2 separate regions of the Homo sapiens genome follow, and region 2 is linked to region 1. The links come from fine-mapping of genetic effects on plasma protein levels. A gene starts in region 1. The other region holds a variant in brackets. All regions are shown on one strand. Distances are between the middles of the regions.

Region 1 (9,542 bases):
CACACATATTTTCACACATCCGGGGCCCCTCCTGCTCCCCCCTCTCCCTCTGGGCTTGTTCACCCACCTCCTAGGGTCAGCCCTGCTGCTTTCTGGGCATGTCTATGCCAAGCCTGGAGTTCCGCACCGGTTTCATACCCTCCCATGGCAGATAAGACTTTAATAGAATTCCATTGCTCCTCAGAGCTCAGTAATGCATTCTGGAAATTAGGCGGCTACATACTAAAGCCATTGTTCCCCCTTATAAATGGGCTCTCTCAAAGCCAGTGACCATGGGGGCTCTGATAAGCTCTCATGAAGCCTCACTCCACATGTTATTGGTGTGCTAAAAGGTGCAACTCCAGGCTTACATTGCTCATTGTTAGGGGCTGATACATTTAAGTAGTTTCTCCATGAATCAGGCAGCCTAGGTATTTCCCCCACTCTTGGCATTGATAGATGAGCAAAAGGAAGCCATTTAGATGGTGCTATATAGGGCTCCAGCCCACGTGGTGAATGATTTCCAATGCCTGGTTTAATTTATTTTTAAATGAAATTTGTTATTGATTCTGGATTAAAAGGACAAATCTTACAGCTGTTACCACTGACAGAGCCACAGTGCTCAAGTGACACCTCTCAAGGAGGGGAGGGAGGGTGGCCTGTCTGAGTCAAGGGGAGGGTATGGAGACTCTCCAGGGAGCTTGGCTCAGCAGTAAGGGGCAGTGCAAGATCCCATGCTTAGAGGGAAGTTTAAAAATATCATCTTTCCCAATTGAAATACTTGACGTGATGCTCACCTCTGAGCCTCATTTATATAATGGAAATAGCAGTGATATTTGCCTCATGGCATCCACACGACCACTAGAGGCATGTTAGTTGCCTCCAGGGATGGGAGGCTTTCCATCTCCTGCAGCATTCCCAGAATGAAATGAGTGACAGGCGTCACCCACTCTAGTGAATTCCTAGAGACTGTTTCCTGGGCTAGTCTTTGCTTACCTTCTGCCTCCACTAGGCTCTCGGCTTCCACGGTGCCCAGAGATTACACTTGCATTGGGAAGCAGACAAGAGGCACAATTACACAGGGGAGGAGGATGGGCTGGGATGTGTCCGTTCACATTCAGCCTCTGCCCTACCTCACTGTGCAACTTTGTGCAGGTTACATCATCTTTCTGAGCTTTGTTTCTCCATCTGTAAAAGAAGGAAGGGTATAATAGCAGCCTCAGGGGTTGTTGTATGAATTATAGGAGATCATGGGTGTGAATGTGATTTGTAAACTGTAAAGTGTAGTTTAGGTGCTGCAGGAAATACAAGTGGGACAGTACAGTATAGTGGGAGGTCTCTGAGTTGGGAGACAAAGGACCTGGATCCAGTTCTGTCATGAGTGGCTGTGTGGCTCTGAGAAAGTGAATTACTTTCTCTGGGTCTTAGTTTCTTAAGGTGCCAAGAGGGTAGGTTGGAATCAAACATATGAAATGTTTGATTGGCTCTGGAATCAAACACATCATGGCCTTGCTATGTCGCTTTAGGCAAAATACCTAACCTTTCTGAACCTATGTCCTCATCTGTAGATATCAAGAACACTAGTCAACATGTATCATGTATTTGCCATGTGCCTGGCATTGTTCTAAGTGCTTTCCATGTAACAACTCATTTAATCCCCACCACCCTGCTGTGAAGGAGGTATTATTACCCTTGTTTTACAGACGAGAAAATTGAGGCACAGGGAGGCTAAGCAACTTGTCTAAGTTTACACAGCTACCAAATGGCAGGATTCAAAACAGAGAATATGGCTCTAGAGCCCACACTTCTAACCACACCATCCTACCCTACCTGGCCTGGTGGTTCTGAGGATTAAGGGGAATAATGAAAGTTCTTAGGGCCATGCTGGGCATACAGTGATGAGCCAACAGAGGCTTGGGGACTGGGAGAAGGCAGCAGGCATTTCTTCCCATGGGGACTCAGGCTGGACCTCGCCCAACTGGGGACTCAGCTAGACAGAGGGGAAGGCATACAAGCACAGGGGAAGCACTGGGAAGGTTGAAGATGTAATGAGGCCAAGGCATGCCCAAGAGAGCACAGGATATGTGCAGGAGGTGAGTCTGGGACCCTGAATGCAAACTAGAGAAGTCAGGATTTCTCACATAAACAGGCCATCAGAGGGTTTTTTTAGCAGAACCATTATATCATGAGCATTTTCTTCTTTTTTCCTTTTTTTTTTGAGATGAAGTCTCACTCTGTCACCCAGGCTGGAGTACAATGGTGTGATCTTGGCTCACTGAAAACTCCGCCTCCCAGGTTCAAGCGATTCTCCTGCCTCAGCCTCCTGAGTAGCTGGGATTACAGGTGCCCACCACCACTCCTGGCTAATTTTTGTATTTTTAGTAGAGATGGGATTTCACCATGTTGGTCAGGCTGGTCTCGAACTCCTGACCTCGTGATATGCCCACCTCGGCCTCTCAAAGTGCTGGCATTACAGGCGTGAGCCACCACACCTGGCCGATCACGAGCATTTTCAAAGGCATACAATCCCTGGATGTCTGTCCTTGAAGGAACCTTGACCTTGTTCCAGGCTTCAAAGAGAAAAGATTTCTGAAGGTCAGCCGGTGGGCTAGGGGCACAGCAGCAATGTGCTGCCATCCCGCCAGACCCCCTTCCTCTGCAGGCCTGAGCAATCTCTTGTTTACTCCTCTTTAATCTCCTCTCCCTCCCTGTCCCCTTGCCTGTGTCTGCTCCCTCCAATCTGTGGTTTAAGAGGAGAAAGCCCGGGTTTGAGTCCCAGTTCTGTCACCACAGTCTCCTGGTGAGGCCTCAGGCTGGGGTTGAAGGAGTCCTGGGTTTTAGTCTGGCTAACATGGTGGCTGCTATGTGATCTGGAGGATTCTCAGTTTCCATATCTTTATGATGGAAGCAGTAGTTCATTTCGCTGGGAGCGGGGTTCAGGGTAGTTAATGAATGAGAAAACACGTGCATAGAGTCCAAGACGCCTGGCCAGCCCAGGATAACCTAAACACCACCTCTGTGTGGGAAGAAAGTGAGAAGTGAGAGAATCAGGCAAACACGGCCCCTTCCTCCAAGGCATGTGGTCCAGAAGGTTCGGGGGGTGGGGGAAGCGGTCGACGCTTGGGACCTGTCCTCGGTACTGAAGGGAGCGCGGGGGCTGTGGACGGTGCTAGAACACAGTGCTTGTAAGTGCGGGACATCGTGGAGGAGGTGTCCTTAGTTTGGAAGGAGCTGGATTGTTGCTGGCTACCACGGGCCCCATCCGGTGTGCTACCCCCCCCCCATAATACTGGAAGGGGGGCGCTAAGACAGAGGGAAGACGGCGAGGGGCTATGTTCCTTGGTCTCTAACCTTGTTCTCAAACTTGGGCGCTGTACACACGGCTGGACGCGGGATCCACCTGTGTTCTGGAGTGGGGAGTGGGCTGTCGGAGGGGTTGACCCTGTTCGACGGGGACGGGGAAGAAAGTCTGAGGGTCTGTCCACGGTGTGAACCCTAGCATCAAAGGGCCAGTTGAGACGCTGTCCACGGTGCCCAAAGGATGGGCCCGGGTGGGGCGGGGGGCGGGGGGCGGGGGGGGGGCTGGCGCTGTCCTCCTCCGTGGTGCTGAAACCGGGAGGACCAGGCTGTGTGAGCAGGGAGGCCTGGGGAAGGGCAAGGGATGAGAGCAGGAGGGACCCCGCCCAGGAGTCAGGGGCCTCGCCCGACTCGCCGTGGGACCTCAGAGAAGCTAATTACCTGATTTCAGGCGCTTCCTTATCTTTTAAATGGGACCACAGTTCCGCCCTCCTGTCTGTCCCATCAGCCCCAGTAACACGGCTTGGGAAGGAACTGGAGGACTTTGTTGGATTCTTGCTCTTGGGAATGGGAATGGTGCCCTATCCCCCTCCCCTGCCACACTCACACACACATACACCCACGCATACGCGCGCGCACACGCACACGCACACACACACTCATGCACACACACACCATCAAGGCTCATTGGTCTAGGGAAGGAGCCTACAGTCCAGAAGGGGGCGATCCCATCCACCACATAAGGTCCAGTATCTTCAAGAGCCAGGAGCCGCAACAACTAACTGGCCTGTCTCTCTCCCATTACAAAGACTCGAAAACTGAGTCCCAGAAAGGGGAACACCGACAATAATAACTACTGAGCTCCTACCACGTAGGCAGCATTATGCTAAGCGCTTTGCATGCACGATTTCGCAAATCCTCACCAGGACCCCCGCAGACAGCTATTACCCCTATTTCTCAGATGAAGACTTCGAGGTTCAGAGAGGGGTAGACACCCGGACGCGATCACACAGCGAGCCGAGGTCGGCGGCAGAGCTATCACCAGGTCCCCTGGGTCTCAGCCCAGGCTCCCACCCTACCTCGCCCTCACCCCCAGCCCCACTGGCCCCTGACCCCGGCCCCGCCCTGCCGGTAAAGTTAGGAGCCTCTGAGTGCGCTGGCCTGGCGGCGGGTGCCCTGGCTTTTCTCCCTCTCCCCGCTGGACGGCATTTCTGTGGCTGAAGCCCGTTGGGTCGTGCTTTGCGGGAACCGCGTCCCTGGGGTGGCTCTCTCCGCCCCATCCCGGCCCCGCCTCCGCACTCGGGCGGGGGAAAGTTGCGGGTACCGCTTTAAAAATCCCAGCCTGGGCAAAACTTTGATGATAAATCAAGCGGCAGATCCCTCCGCCGCCTGCTCCGAGCGGGAGGAGGGAGGGGAGGAGGGAGGGGAGGAGGGAGGCGGGAGGAGGGAGGAGGGTGCGGCGGCGGCGCGGCGTGGCCTTCCGCGGAAGGGAAGAGTCCCGCAGTCGGAGGCGGCCGGCTGGGCGTGCGCTCGCTCCCCGAAGCCGGGGCTGGGCCGGAGCCGGGCGAGGGCTGGGAGCTGGGCCGGGTCCGGGGACAGCGGGCGAGGGGCAGCTGCCGGAGCCGGGCAGCCAGGCCGCTCAGGGCAGGGGACAGCTGGCGCCGGTTCTGCGGTCTCCGGGGCCCAGATGTGAGGCGGCGGCGCCCCCGGCCCGAGAGCGCACGATGGGGGCCCCGCTCGCCGTAGCGCTGGGCGCCCTCCACTACCTGGCACTTTTCCTGCAACTCGGCGGCGCCACGCGGCCCGCCGGCCACGCGCCCTGGGACAACCACGTCTCCGGCCACGGTGAGTTCGGTCGCCGCCCCCGCGGACTTCCCCACCAAACCCCAACCCGGGCCGCGCCACTCCAACTTGGCCGCCCCGGGGCTCGAACCGGCGCCAGTCGTGGCGGGCATCCCGGGGCGCCCCCTGCCGGCGCGGTGGACCCGCCCTGGCACCCTGGCCCTGCAGAGAAGGGGGCACCCGGGGCGCACCCCCGAACCTCCTCCCCACACACTCGCGCGGATACGCACACCTGCATGGCCACACCGATATGCACAGCCGCGGACACACTCAGAGCCACAGTCGCTGCTTTCTCACACTCACAACTCCTACCCTGCACATCTCCACACACCTCAGGTCCCCCTCCTCACTGCAAGCCTTTACACTTATGCCCACTACACACGCACATCAGGCACTGCGCCGGTGGGCTCACTCTGCCAGCTGGCGCACACGCTTCGCCACAACTCTTGCCTGCCCACCTGCAGACACACTGGTGCGCGCGCGCGCACACACACACAGGCACACACATACACACACATGAACACAATTTGCTCACCCACTCCTCTCTGCCCATCTGCCTTTACTCTTCTGGGTTTAACCGCACAGAGGCCCTTGTCCTCTTCCTCTCCACACCCAGCCCTATACCACTGGAAAGGTCCTTGGGGGCAGAAGACCTTGTTTCTTGAGAACTGGTCGCCTGGGGCTGCAGCCTCCCAGTTGGGCGGGTGGCACCTGGTGGAAGCCCCTCAGAGCCACCGGAGTAGTTGGGGTTGCTGCTTGCAGCCAGAGGCATGGGAGTGGGAGTGGAAGTGGAATGCCGGGTGCTTTTGTCTGCCTCTGGGGATGGGCAGGAAGCCGTGCCATCCTTCCATAGGGTACCCCCATCCTCATCCTCGGCCCTAGAGGACTGAAATGTGGGAAATCTCAACTCCAGCCGCTGTGGAAGCCGGGGAGCAGACAAGCATTCCCAGCACTGGCTGGCTGAGTGTCAGAAGCTCCTGCTAGCCCCGAAGGAGCCCAAGTTGGCAGCAGAGTTGGACTGTATGAGCCCGGCAGCTGTGGGGGCTCCCCCTGACCCCTGTGAGCCTGGCTCTGGGATGGAGGCTCGAGCATAGATGAAACCAAAGGAGACCTTTCTTCCATGCAGCCCTTCACTAGACAGGCTGACAGCCTTGTTGGGGAGGCTGCAGCCCCAGTGCTGGGCACTGTGGGCCCAGGGCTGTGGGGAGGTTTGCACAAAGGCCAGATAATTGGATGATTTATTCTGATGGGAGTGAGTGGGGGTAAGGCAGGGTAGATAATCAGGGAAGGTTTTGCTGGGGTATGACACATGAGTGGGATTGCTCCAGTGGAGAGGGGGGCTTCGAAGCCATCCTCAGGGTCTCTGCTTTTTGGGAACCATGACTCCCCGCCCCCTTCTGCCTCACCATGTTTGGTAGTAACTGCTGTGTGCATCATTTACATACCCTTCATGCCCCTCACCTCATTTCTACCGACCTGGCTAGAGCGGTGGTAAATAAGGAAAGGGTTCTTTTGATCCTCAACTTACAGATAGGGAAACCAAGGCTCAGAGAGGTGAAGGAAGTTGCCCAAGGTCACACAGTAAGAGAGTGACTGAGCCAGGACAGGCCCCAGGGTCTGTCAGGCAAAGACAGCGCTTTTTTCCAGGACATTCATCTCCCTGTCAGATTCCCTCCCATTCTAGGGAAACTGGGAATTCCTCCCTCTCCACCCCTCCTCTCCTCGCTCCGCTCAGTCCCTTGGCACAGTTGGAACTTACACTAGGAGGGGTTTCCATGGAGGGCCTTCCCTGAGTTTGCAGTCCCGAGGGGTATGAGGAATGGGACTCTGAGGCTTATGGTCGTTCTGTCCCTAGAGCACCAGACCCCAGGGACTTGGGTGCCAGTCTGTTATTCCCAAGGCCCCAAGGTGGCTCCCCCCCATAGAAAAGCAGGGTCTGTCTGCCCTTTGTGTGACAGTCTCTACCTGTCCCCTGGTGCCAGGTAAGCTGAGGGGGCACAGCTCTGCCCAACCAGCTGTAATCTCCCCTCTGCACCCTGGAAGGTCAAGCTAAGGCCCAGGACAGGGGCTAGATGAGAAGGAGGCACCCCTAGTTGCTGGGGAACCTGGCTTCTCTCCTGAAACCCCCGTGTGGCTCTGGGCAAGTGAGCCACCCCTCTGGGTCTCCCTGTGTCCCTAAAGAAACAAAGAAGCCAGGCTGCTCTGCAGGGGCCAGGCTGCCTTCCCCCGACATTGCCAGGTTCAAAGTCACCAAGTAGTGACTGCCGAGGAGCCCCCACAGCTGCCCCTCTGCCGTGCCAAGCACCCGCCACCACAGGAAGGGTTTGGAGCCACTCACTTAATCACAAAAAGAAACTGTTATTAATGATAGTGAGACGCGGCGAATAAGTGGGTCATGTCTAATAAGCTATTTGTGTTCAGGAGGAGAATACCAATTTGATAAAAGCTGTGTGTGCTGAAAAAGCTCAGAAATTGCTGTTTAGCAGATTGGGGCCTGATCATTTCATTATTCCTGGGCTCCGTGTGTCCTCAGCTGATTCAGGAAATGTGGCCCAGTCGGGAAGGTGTCTCTGTGTCTGGGGGTGGGGGGTGGGGGCTGGAAGCAGGGGCTCCTGGGGAGGGGCACATTGACCCCAAGTGCTTGGTGGCTGCTCACCCCTCCAACTCCATCTGAGCCCAGCCCGGCCGCCGGGCTCCTGCCTTCCACCTGCCTGCCCTGGAGCTTGTCACAGGGAAAGCCTGCGGTCAGATGGGTCAGAAAGGACATCTGTTTTGCTTCCCATCTCCCTCCCACCTCCACTCAAGGTACTTGGAAGAGGGCTTTTTCGAGGTGTGAGGAATGAATGGGGAGCATGTATCTCAAGGAGGCATCAGGCACTGGGAGGTGGGGTGGTGATGGTCCGTGTCTGCACCTAGTAGGTGCTCAATAAACAGGAGTGATTTTGATTTTTTCTTATCAGAAAATGTTAACTCATTGCCCATGGGCACAGCAGGGATGGGAGGAAAAGGTGCAAGCATTGATGAAATGCCTACTGTGTGCCCCGTGCTGCCAAGCCCTTGCCAGTGTTAACTCACTCAGGCTGACCATTCATGCAAGGTTGGTGTTGGAGATAGGAGGAAACTGAGGCTCAGAGAGGGCCAGTGACTTACCCAAGGGTGCTGAGTCTGTACAGAGAGCTGGAAAGCTGTGTTTAAGATGAAGATGCATCTGGCAGCTCTGGGACTGCCTCCTCCAGAACAGCCTTGAGGCAGGCTTGGCCATGGCGTCTTCCTTCTTGTAGCCGTAACCCAAGCTTTCTCCCTTCTAGCTCCTCAGGGAACCAGTAAAGCAGTGGGTTCCACCAAGAGGAACCAGCCACTCAGAAAGGTGGCAAGATCTTGCTGAGGATACCTGTAGGTTAGAAACAGGCAGCTGGACTGGACCCCAGGATCTTTCCAGATCTTGTCCAGGGGAGGGATCCAGAGGGCAGGGTCTTTGTGAAGATCTCTGTAGACCCCTACAGCTTGCAGAGGACCCCTACAGCTTGCAAGAAGCCTCACATGGCAGAGTCCCCCAGGGAATTTTTTACAATGCAGATCCCCCAAACCCGCTGCCAGAATGGTTATTTGATGGGACCCTGGAATGTACATTTTATTATTATTTTTTAATTTCTCTTGAGACAAGATCTTGCTCTATTGACCAGGCTCGAGTGCAGTGGCACAATCTCAGCTTACTGCAACCTCTGCCTCCTGGGTTCAAATGATCCTTTTACCTCAGCCTCCGAGTAGCTGGGAGTGACAGGCATGTGCTACCACCCTCAGCTAATTTTTAAATTTTTTGTAGAGATGAGAGCTCATTATATTGCCTAGGCTGGTCTTGAACTCCTGGGCTCAAGCCATCCTCCCTCCTCGGCCTTCCAAAGTGCTGGGATTACAGGCATGAGCCACCGCATCTAGTGGAATCTGCATTTTAATAAGTTCCCCAGAGGATTCTCATGCAGCCTGGGATTTGGAAGCCACTGCCTAAGTATTTACCCATACCTGGTGGGAGATGTAGGGACAGGAAATGTCTGACGCTATGGACTGGCTTGGTTTGGTTTCACAGGGGAGGGAGAGGTCCAGACAGGGGCAGGTGGATGGTCCCTGAGAGGAGCTCCAAGAAGCCTCACACTGCAGCAGACAACTCCCCTCCCACCCCCACCCTGCCACACACACACACCCCTACACACACACACACCCACACCCACCCCTAGGCCAGCACCTTCAATTATTCATATACCCCAGTGCAGACAAAGATCCTGGCTTGGCCGGGGGCTTTGTCCATTGAGTGATTCACTGTCCTGAGATTCTCTCTGTTGCCAGGAGGGACCAGCAGGGTGCTGGGGGAGGGAGGGGGCACCGGGCCATTTGGCAAGCAGCCTGTGCACTGAAAAATGACTCTGGCT
Region 2 (9,542 bases), 260 kb before region 1:
GGGACTGTTCCCCAGAAGGAGGTGTGTAAGGTAAACATGAGGATGAACAAGGTTATTGTTATTGAGAGTGTTCTTGACCAAGAAAATAGTACATGCCAGTGTTTGATGCAAGGGAAGTTGTGTCGAAGTGGAGGAAATGGAAGCATTCCTGATTTTAGTGAGTACTTCCAACAACCTTGTGAGGTGAGGATGATGATCACCTCCATTTTATAGCTGAGGACACTGAGGCTCAGAGAGGTTCATTAACTGGTCTCAGATCTTTCAGCAAATAAGTGATGAAGTTGGGATTGAACCAGATGGCTTAGCCTGGGTTTCCTAAAACACAAAGTCTGGAGCAAAGTGTACATATTTTATGGCAGGTGCAATTCTTAGGCAGCAAGAATAAGGGGGACAGGGTGGCAGATAGAGAAGAATAGGAAGCAAACACAAAGAGCTATGTTTCTGAGCTGGCCGTAGAAACATACCTTTTTGAGCCAATGCAACTGGGTGCTGGGTCACTTGGAGTGGCAGATACGCAAGCCATGTGGAACCTCCCATTTTTGGAATAGTCCATTTGTCTGCGGCTCCTTCCTGGTTCATGGTTGTCAATGTTCCTGATTTGCTGCAAGGAGTGCTGTTACTCAGCCCCTCCAGGAAGCCACTAGGGAAGCCTGATCCCCTGCCCTAAGCATGGTGCTTTATCTGAATGTGAAAGTGGTGGAAAGAGCCTCCCTCAGATCGAGTTGGACCCAGGGGGTCAGCTGCTGCAGCTTGACAGGCTTGATGGGGTGTCTGCAGAAGGCTAGTCCTCACCCGGGGGAAACTGAGGCAGCTGGACTAGAAGAAGAGCCAAAGACAGCAGCCGGGCTCTTCATTGAGCAAGAGGGGACAGGTGGATCGAGTCAATCTGGGACGATACACGAGACCAGGCCTGTCTGATTACAGAACTTACACGCAAGAGGCCAAGCTAAGGCTGGGAAGGTGGGCAGGGGCCAAAGTCCAGAGGGCTTATTGACAGATGGAAATATGGGGCTCTGTCTGCAGGGTAATGAGGAGCCATGGGAGGATTCTCAGCACCTGGCAGGGTGGCTGGCACCAACGGCAACCCAAGAGAAGCTAGATCCCACTGGCGGGCGTGCGCCCAGTGGCCTCATATTGGCAGGGTGTAGGGGGCTGCCCGTCACCCCCCTGCCCTGCCACTTCTCCGAAGCTCAGGTCCAGAGGCTGGCAGTGAGGTGCTGCCCATGACAACTGCAGCGCTCATCCTTCAGCATGACATTGGCACATCACTGGGGGAGTGGAGGGTGACGGAGCACCATTCCGGGTGGTAATGGCTCCAGCGCCAGGAGGAAAATGACATAAATAATATCCCATTAGAGGCGCCGAGCGGCTCCGCTGAGTGCCTTGTGTTGCTGGCAACATTATGGGCTTCATAAACAGACTCATTCATTTTCCACTCGTTGCTCTGGTGGATGGGGGATGGGTGGGCTGCCAGGGAAGGTGACTGGGGGCTGCAGAGGCAGTGAGGGGCAGGAACAGCACAGTCCGCCCCTCCAAGCCTCAACTCGCATGCCTCCAGCTTGGGCCACCAGACTTGCTGGCCCTGTCCACCTCTAGACTTTTGCCCACACGCCCTGCCTCTGCCTGGAACACGCTCTCCCCAGCTCAGTCTTTGGAAACCACACTACTTCTTTCAGGGACTAACTCAGGTTGCTCCTTGGTGCTGGGTTCTCCATGCAGCTTTCCTTAATTCCCAATCCTTATTTTTATTTTATTTTATTTTATTTTATTTTATTTTATTATTTTTTTGAGACAGAGTGTCACTCTGTTGCCCAGGCTGGAGTGCAGTGGTGCGATCTTGGCTCACTGCAAGCTCCGCCTCCCGAGTTCACGCTATTCTCCTGCCTCAGCCTCTCGAGTAGCTGGGACTACAGGCGCCCATCACCACGCCCGGCTAATTTTTTGTATTTTTAGTAGAGACGGGGTTTCGCCGTGTCAGCCAGGATGGTCTCGATCTCCTGACCTCGTGATCTGCCCGTCTCGGCCTCCCAAAGTGCTGGGATTACAGGCGTGAGCCACCGTGTCCAGCCCCCAGTCCTTATTTTTTTATTTTATTTTGAAATGGGGCCTCTATCACTCAGGCTGGCGTGCAGTGATGCAATCACAGCTCACTGCAACCTCTACCTCCTAGGCTCAGGTGATTCTCCCACCTCAGCCTCCCAAGTAACTGGGACTACAGGCACGTAACACTATGCCTGGCTAATTTTTATGTTTTTAGTAGAGCTGGGTTTCAGCGTGTTGCCCAGGTTGGTCTCCAACTCCTAGGCTCAAGTGATCCACCCGCCTTGGCCTCGCAAGGTGCTGGGACTACAGGCATGAGCCACCGTGCCCAGCCCATTCTCCATGGCCTCGAGGCTCCCTTAGCTCTGGTGAGACAGCCTGGCACACTGGAGGGCATCCTGGAGACAGACAACTCTGGATTCAAATTCTGAGCTGGCAATTATAAGTCTGGTGACCTTGGGTTAGTCCTCGAATCTCTCTGAGCCTCAGCTTCCTCTTGTGAAAGGATATCTTGTGAGAGTATCTTACAGGCTTGTCATGAAAAGTGTCTTTTAGGCTTGTCTGGAACACAGTTGATTTTCATAAATAATTGTTCTGCTTGTCCCCTTTACTATGTAGACATTTGAGTTCTCTCCACAAAGGGACCATTGATTTTCTTGTGTCTGTCCCTCCTGGAGTCTAGTCCTGGGCTCCGTGCATGGCAGGTGTTGAAGGCAGGTTTGAGGGTGCAGTGAGAGGAGCTCTGGGTAAAGAATGTAGGGCCCCGGGTCTTGTCCCAGCTTGAACATTGATGAGCTGTGTGACCTTGGGCCAGTCCCTTCCCCTCTCTGGGCCTCTTTCTCTGCAAGGGTAAGACAGAAGTTTACATAAAAGGACACCTGTGGCCCTTCTCAGCTACCACTTAGAGGACCTCAGGCTAGTACCCCATCCCTCCACCTGTCAGGAGGTGGGCTCTGGCTTTCAAGTCAGAGAGAAACAGGCTAGGATCCTGCTCTGCTGTGTGGCCTTGAGCAAGAACAGAACATCTCTGAATCTCACTCAGTTTCCTTGTCTGAAAAATGGAGGTAATACAGCCAGCATTACAGGGTGGTTGTAGTAACTTAGTGAAATTATTGAATCAGTGGTATTCGCTGAACACTTATTATGTGCCAGGCACTATTCACTGTTGGGGATACAATGGTGAACAAGATAAGGATTATTCTCCCCCTTCCCAGAGCTTATATTTAAGTGAGAGAGAGAGAGACAAAAATCAGCCATCACATAAATAACTACATAATTACCAACCGTGCTATATGTTATAAAGAAAAAGTAGGCTAGGCATGATGGCTCACACCTGTAATTCCAGCACTTTGGGAGGCGAAGGTGGGAGGATCACTTGAGCCCAGGAGTGCGAGCCCAGGAGTGCTAGACCATCGTGGGCAACATGGGGAGATCCCGTCTTTACAAAAACTAAAAAATTAGCTGGCCATGTGGTTTACACCTGAAGTCCCAGTTACTCAGGAGGCTGAGGTGGGAGGATCGCTTAAGTTGGGGAATGGTGGCTGCCGCGAGTTGCAATCATGACACTGCACTCCAGCCTGGGAAACAGAGTAGGACACTGTATCTAAATAAAGTAAAATAAAATAAAATAAAATGGAAGTACAGGGTCCTGACCTAGTGCTCCTAGTTATGGAGGGCTTCCTGGGAAGGTGGCACATGAACTGAGATCTTGTTCTGATTATTTATTGCTGTATAACAAATGAACCTAGTAGCTTAAAACTACAATTTTTGTTGATGCTTGTGGTTTCTGTGGATCAGGGATTCAGAAGGGCTCTGCTGTGCAGCTCTGACTCAGGGTCTCTCATGAGGTTTCAGTTAGATGATGGCTGGAGCTGGAGCAGCTGGAAGATGCTGGACATCTCTTTCCTTCTCTGTAGGTGATCTCAGGGATTCTCCATGTGGTCTTTCTGCAGAGGCCGGCTTGGGCTTCCTCATAGCATGGCATCCTCAGGACAGTCATGCTGCTTAAATGTAGCTTAGGGCTCCAGAGCCAATGTCCTTGACCTCCTTCCAGAAGTGTCCCAGTGTCACTTACATGGCATCCTATTGGCCACAAACAAGTCATAGCCTGCCCCAAATCAAGGGAAGGGAACACGGGCCCCACTTCTTCCCAGGACAAGTCTCAAGGTCATATTTTATAAAGAACACGTAAGATAAAAGATGCTGTTGTGCCTATCTTTGCAAAATATGCCCTGCCATAGATCTGAAGGGTGAGTAGGCGTTAAATAAGCAGAGAAGAGAGTTCCAGGCAAAGGGACAGCTGGCACAAAGGCCCTGGGGTGGAAAGAATGTGTGGTTTTGTACTGAGGAAGCACTCAGGGACACAGTAGTGAGTAAGACAACAACCCATAACGTTTGGAGCTTCCATTCTAGTGGGAGAGACAGACAATAAACACACAAAGAAACAAACAACACAATTTCAGGTTGCAATCAGTCCCAGAAAGGGAATACACTGGGTGCCGTGACAGAGTGAGATTGGGAACTGGAGTAGTACTTCAGGCTGGCAAGACCTTTCTGAGGGGGTGGCAATTGAGCTGAGAGCTGCAGATGAGAGGGAGCTGGCCAGCCACGCAAAGGGCTGGGGAAGAGTGTTCGCATCCGAGGGAACAGCATGTGCAAAGGCTAAGAGGTGGAAAAGGGATGGGTGGCATGGTTGAAACTTGGTACGCAAGGGGGCTGGCAGGTGTGACATAAGGATGGACAGGGCGGGAGAGGCCAGGTTTTGCAGGGCTCTGGCAAGGAGTTTGGACTTATTTCTAAGTGTGACAGGGAGCTATTAGAGGGTTTTAAGCAGGAGAGTGATGTGATCTCATTTTGTAATAGAGATCCTCTGGCTGCCGTGGCACTGACTTCTGGGCGTGATGCCAGACTTCCGTTCCTGGCAGTACCATGAATGTGCTGTGTGACCAGAGGCTAGTCACTTAACCTCTCTGAACTGTAAAATGTGAAGAATGGAATATAGTGGGCAGGAAGGAGGGAACCCAGGGAGAAGGCTGTAGCATCATCCAGGCAGAGATGATGGTGGCCTGGACCAAGGTGGTTTCGGTAGAGTTGTTGGTAAGAAATGGGTAGGATCACGACAGACTGGGAGGTAGAATGGACAGAACCTGGTGATTGGATGTGGAGCATGAGAAGGAGGAAAGTACAACCCCCAGGTTTCTGGCAAAGCTTAATCTTATTTTACAGCTCAGAGAGGTTAAGTGACTAGTCTGTGGTCACACAGCACATCCATGGTACCCAGAATTTAGTGCCACCCTCTGGTACTGATACTGAGCCCTTGGCCCTTTTCTCTGTGTCTCCCCTGCCCTACTGCCCCCCATCACCTCCCCTTCTTCCTCCCAGGATGCTGGTGGCTCTGGTTGACGCAGTCCCAGCAGGTGTGCCTCGCCAAGCTGTCGGCATGATGAACAGCTTCCCTTGGCTGAGCAGATAACAGTACACACACAGGTCGGGGGGGCCCATGTAGCCCATCCATCAGGCCCGGGAGTGAGTGGAGGGCCGGCACACCCTCATGCCTGTTATCTGCCACAAATGTGTTTTTCTCCCCAAGGTTAACAGGAAGAGTGACAGCCAG[G/T]TGCCTGACATCAGCAGGGCTGGTGTTCGTAGGAGCCAGCCAGACTCTCTCTCCTTTTCTCTCCCTCAGCGTCTGAAGAGTCCTGGGTGTGGAGACGCTTAGAGCCTCAGAATTGCAGACTCTTCAAGTCTTGAGCACTGAATCTTCGAAACTTAGATGCGTACAATCCTTCATTCCTTGAGGCAGGATTGTGTGGTGGTTAAAAGCGGGGACTCTGGATCCCGCCTAACCTGATTGGGTTGACATCCCAGTTCTGCCACTTACTAGCTGTGTTATCTAAGGCAAACACCTCAGCATCTCTGTGCCTCATTATGAGGGTGGTAATAGTGTAATAGTGTCTAGACCACGGGTGGCCGTGGGGATTATAGGAACTAATCTTTGTATCTAAAGTGCTTAGAACAATGCCCGGCACAGAGCATGTTGCTCATATTGGTAGATATAGAGTTCTTAAAGACACAGAATCTTCAAGTCTAAGTTTTAGAGACACAGAACTTTAAAACCTTTGAATCTTCTTAGGGCCACAGATTTTCAGAATCTTACTATTTTAGGTGATTATGGTCACACCTGCAGTGGCAGCTGCAGGGGTTTTAGGCTTCCATAATCTCTGTCACTTCTTTCTCATTTCATTCACATGGGCAATAGCTAGTTTCTCAATCTTATGTAAAGTGTTCTGCAAATATGGTGGCAAGCCCACCTTCTAGGCAGATTGTGGGCCCCACATAGAAATTCTAGAGTGTCTACTGCACAACACCTCACAGTCTCTATAAATACGTTTATCTAACTATCTACCCAGTCCATCCATCCATCCATCCATCCATCCATCCATCCATCCATGCATCCCTTCATTTATCCATCCATGCATCCTTTCATCTATCCATCTTCCCATCCATCCATCTATCCACTCATTCTATCCATCACCTTCTCACATCTATCAATCAATCTATTGTCTAGCCATCTATATGCATTTCCCATCCTTCCATCCATCCATACATCCATACATACATTCTTCTATCTATCCATCTTTTCATCCACCCATTGATCCATACTTTCATCATCCATCTGTCCATCCATCCATCCATATTTGCTCATCCCTCCTCCCCCATCCACCTATCCCATTTCTCTCTCTCTCCTTCCTTCTTTCTTCCTTTTTAAAATTTTCTCATCCTTCCATCTATCTGTCTATCTATTCACCCAACACTTATTCACTTATTGAGTGTCTATAGCATACAAGGTACTGGATTGGGCTATAGAAGGAGGTCTATGCATTGGCGTCAGTTTCTATCTTCCCTGAGCTTCCAGTCCAGCAGGCCATAGAAGACCCAAACACAAACCTGATAATGCAAGCTTGGCTCTATACAGCAGAGATAAAAAGCCATGCTGAGTGACAGAAAGGGAATTCTCCTTTCTGCTGGGGCCCCTGGGGCAGCTTCATAGCAGAGGTGGTATTTCATCAGGATCTCGAAAGACCCTGTCTTGATGACATTACAAGTGGCTTCATCTTTCAGGGGACTGGGAAGAGAAGCCTGGGGAGCCTTAAACACCATCTGGTTCACCTGGATGACCACTGCTAGGAGGTTTGCTTCCATTTTTTTTTCAAATTTAATATTTTTCATTTTGGTTTAGTGAAGGGGACCAAATGAAAGGAGGTTCCCTTTAAATACCATGTGAAGAAGTGCTGCAATCCCTTCTTGCACACCTCCAGGGCTGAAAAGCTCACTACCAGACAAGGAGAAAGGCCTCTAGAACTCTACTGTGCTCCAGGAACTGAAAGGCACAAAGGGCTCTGTTTGATCTTCCTGACCCCCAGGAACTGTCTATTACTGTTATCTGGGGGGTTGGGGGTAGGAATAGTGCTCTGGACCCAGTGTGTTTGGCTCACATCCCAGCTTCCCATTCATGAACTGTATGACCTGGAACAGGTTACTTCACCTCCCAAGGACTCAGTTTACTCATCCATAGTACGGTGATGGCAATTAGAATACCTCTCATGGGATTGTTACAAGGATCAAATGAGCTAACACATTCATGATGCTGAGTGAATGTTTGTGAAATTATTGCTATTACTGTTTTAGGTGGTTGTATTAGTCAGTGTTGCATCAGGCAGCTCAGTGGAGAGCATGAATCTAGCAAAATCGTGACAGTGGTTTGGAAGAGTTGAAAGTGCAGTGGCTGGAGATTATCAATAGCAGAAAAGATGCTACAGACCATATTCACCATTTGACGAAGGCATCCTCTTTGGACTAGTGGGTGCTGCACAAGTAAATGGGATGCTGTGAGAGAAAGAACCCCAAGACTGGAGGAACAAAGACAGGAGTGATTTTTTTTCAAGACAGGTCTCCTTATGTCACCCAGGCTGGAGTGCAGTGGCGTGATCACAGTTCACTGCTGCCTCCACCTCCAGGTTCAAGCGATCCTCTCACCTCAGCCTCCTGAACAGCTGGGACTACAGGCATGCACCACCACGCCCGGCTAGTTTTTTGTATTTTTTGTAGAGATGGGGTTTCTCCATATGCCCAGGCTGGTCTCAAACTCCTGGGCTCAAGCAATCCTCCTACCTCGGCCTCCCAAAGTGCTCACAGGCGTGAGCCTCCGTACCTGGCCAAAAGAGGAAGCAACGTTACAAGAAAGAGCCCAGGAGTTGGGGCTACCTAGAAGGAGTTGGAACCACAGAGGGAGAGGCTGCCTTTCCAAAGACTAGAAACCAGGGAGGAGATGCAGCTAGTGGAGACCTTGCCCTGAGTAGAGGGAGCAGAAAAATACCCTGCTTCTCCCTCCCTCCTGCCCTGCAGTCTGTATGCACTGTCATCTAGGGAGACAAATCAGAGACAAGGAGGCCTGCTCACCCAGCTTGCAGAGCCCAGAGGATCATTTCCTAGGGTATGTTCCTCATGATCCTATTCTGCAAGATACTTCTTCAGAAAAAGGTTTTTAGGCAAATCAGGCTTGGAAATGCTGTAGGCAAGAACTCTGTCCCGCAGATCTGCCAGGCATGTTACTACAGTGAAGACGAGCAGCAACAGAGTTAAAAAGCCCAGGCTCTGTAGTCAGACTCAGTTCCCTCCTCTATCAAATGGGAATAGTAACAATATGTACTTTACAGGGCCATTTATTCATTTGTTAATTTATTCATTAATTGAGTAGATACAGTGTGTCAGTCTCCAGGGATATGCTGGTGAACAAGACAGACATGGTGTCAGTCCTCAAGAAGCTTACATTCTAGAGGAATATAAGCTAATGAGGTAATGAATGTAAAGTGCTTAGCACACTGCCTGGAATATAGTAAATGCCCAATAAATGCCACCCTTAAAGGCTCTGAGAAGTCCTGCAATGGATACATCTTAAATCCAGGGCTTTCCAAACATATCTGGCCATGAAATCTGCCTCTTTTCCCCCCAATAGTACCCTATTCCTATGCTGCAGCACTCACTGGTCCAAAGAACATATTTTAGAAATGCTAGGTGGGCAGATACGGTCTATACACATACTTATACACAGAGACACACAAAGATACAAATATCAACTACTTCTGGTAGCTAATGAAATATTAATAGGGCTTTGAAGAAATGGGAATAGCTCATCTCTTGTTTCATTTTAAAGTGACCACATTTTGTATAAATCTTGTCTTGGAGGGTAGTAAGTGGAATTCACTTTGATGAGTTTGTTCTGAAAAATACGGAGTCATTAATTAATTGATCCACTCAACAAGCATTTACAGCAGCTTCTGTCATTCTGTGCTGCCTGCGTGGCACTGGGGACACAGTGATTCTAAGGCAATGTGTAGGATCAAGATACGCCCTGTATATTGTGGCAGCCCCAAAAGAGGCCGCCTATGACCATCTGGGAGGGCTTCCAGGAAGAGGCGCTATCTGAGTTGAGTCTAAAAAGGTGA

Which allele goes with the higher level. Alleles are on the strand shown, and positions count from the first base shown. The strength of an association depends on the size of the effect and on how common the allele is.
For the plasma level of the protein whose gene starts at base 4,777 in region 1, allele T in region 2 goes with a higher level than allele G (weak association).

What was found. A credible set is the group of variants that fine-mapping cannot tell apart. PIP is the posterior inclusion probability: the model's chance that the variant is causal. The UK Biobank Pharma Proteomics Project read protein levels with antibody pairs (Olink). The fine-mapping took linkage between variants from a reference panel, not from the people measured, so its PIPs are less certain.
Region 2: its variant is the best candidate, but not a certain one, in a credible set for the plasma level of the VSTM2L protein (UK Biobank, PIP 0.53).

Annotation. Positions count from the first base shown.
Region 1 is chr20:37,898,351-37,907,892 of GRCh38, forward strand. It overlaps VSTM2L (V-set and transmembrane domain containing 2 like), which reads left to right and starts at 4,777. Exons shown (of 4, transcript NM_080607.3): 1 at 4,777-5,121. The coding sequence starts at 5,001. LOC124904896 (a long non-coding RNA gene) reads right to left here. Exons shown (of 3, transcript XR_007067576.1): 2 at 8,269-8,509; 3 at 1-1,167. RefSeq lists an enhancer at 4,077-5,040.
Region 2 is chr20:37,635,841-37,645,382 of GRCh38, forward strand. No RefSeq gene overlaps it. Among named protein-coding and RNA genes, the nearest start is that of LINC00489, 17 kb to the left of the region's middle. The variant G/T (reference allele first, on the strand shown) is at 5,654.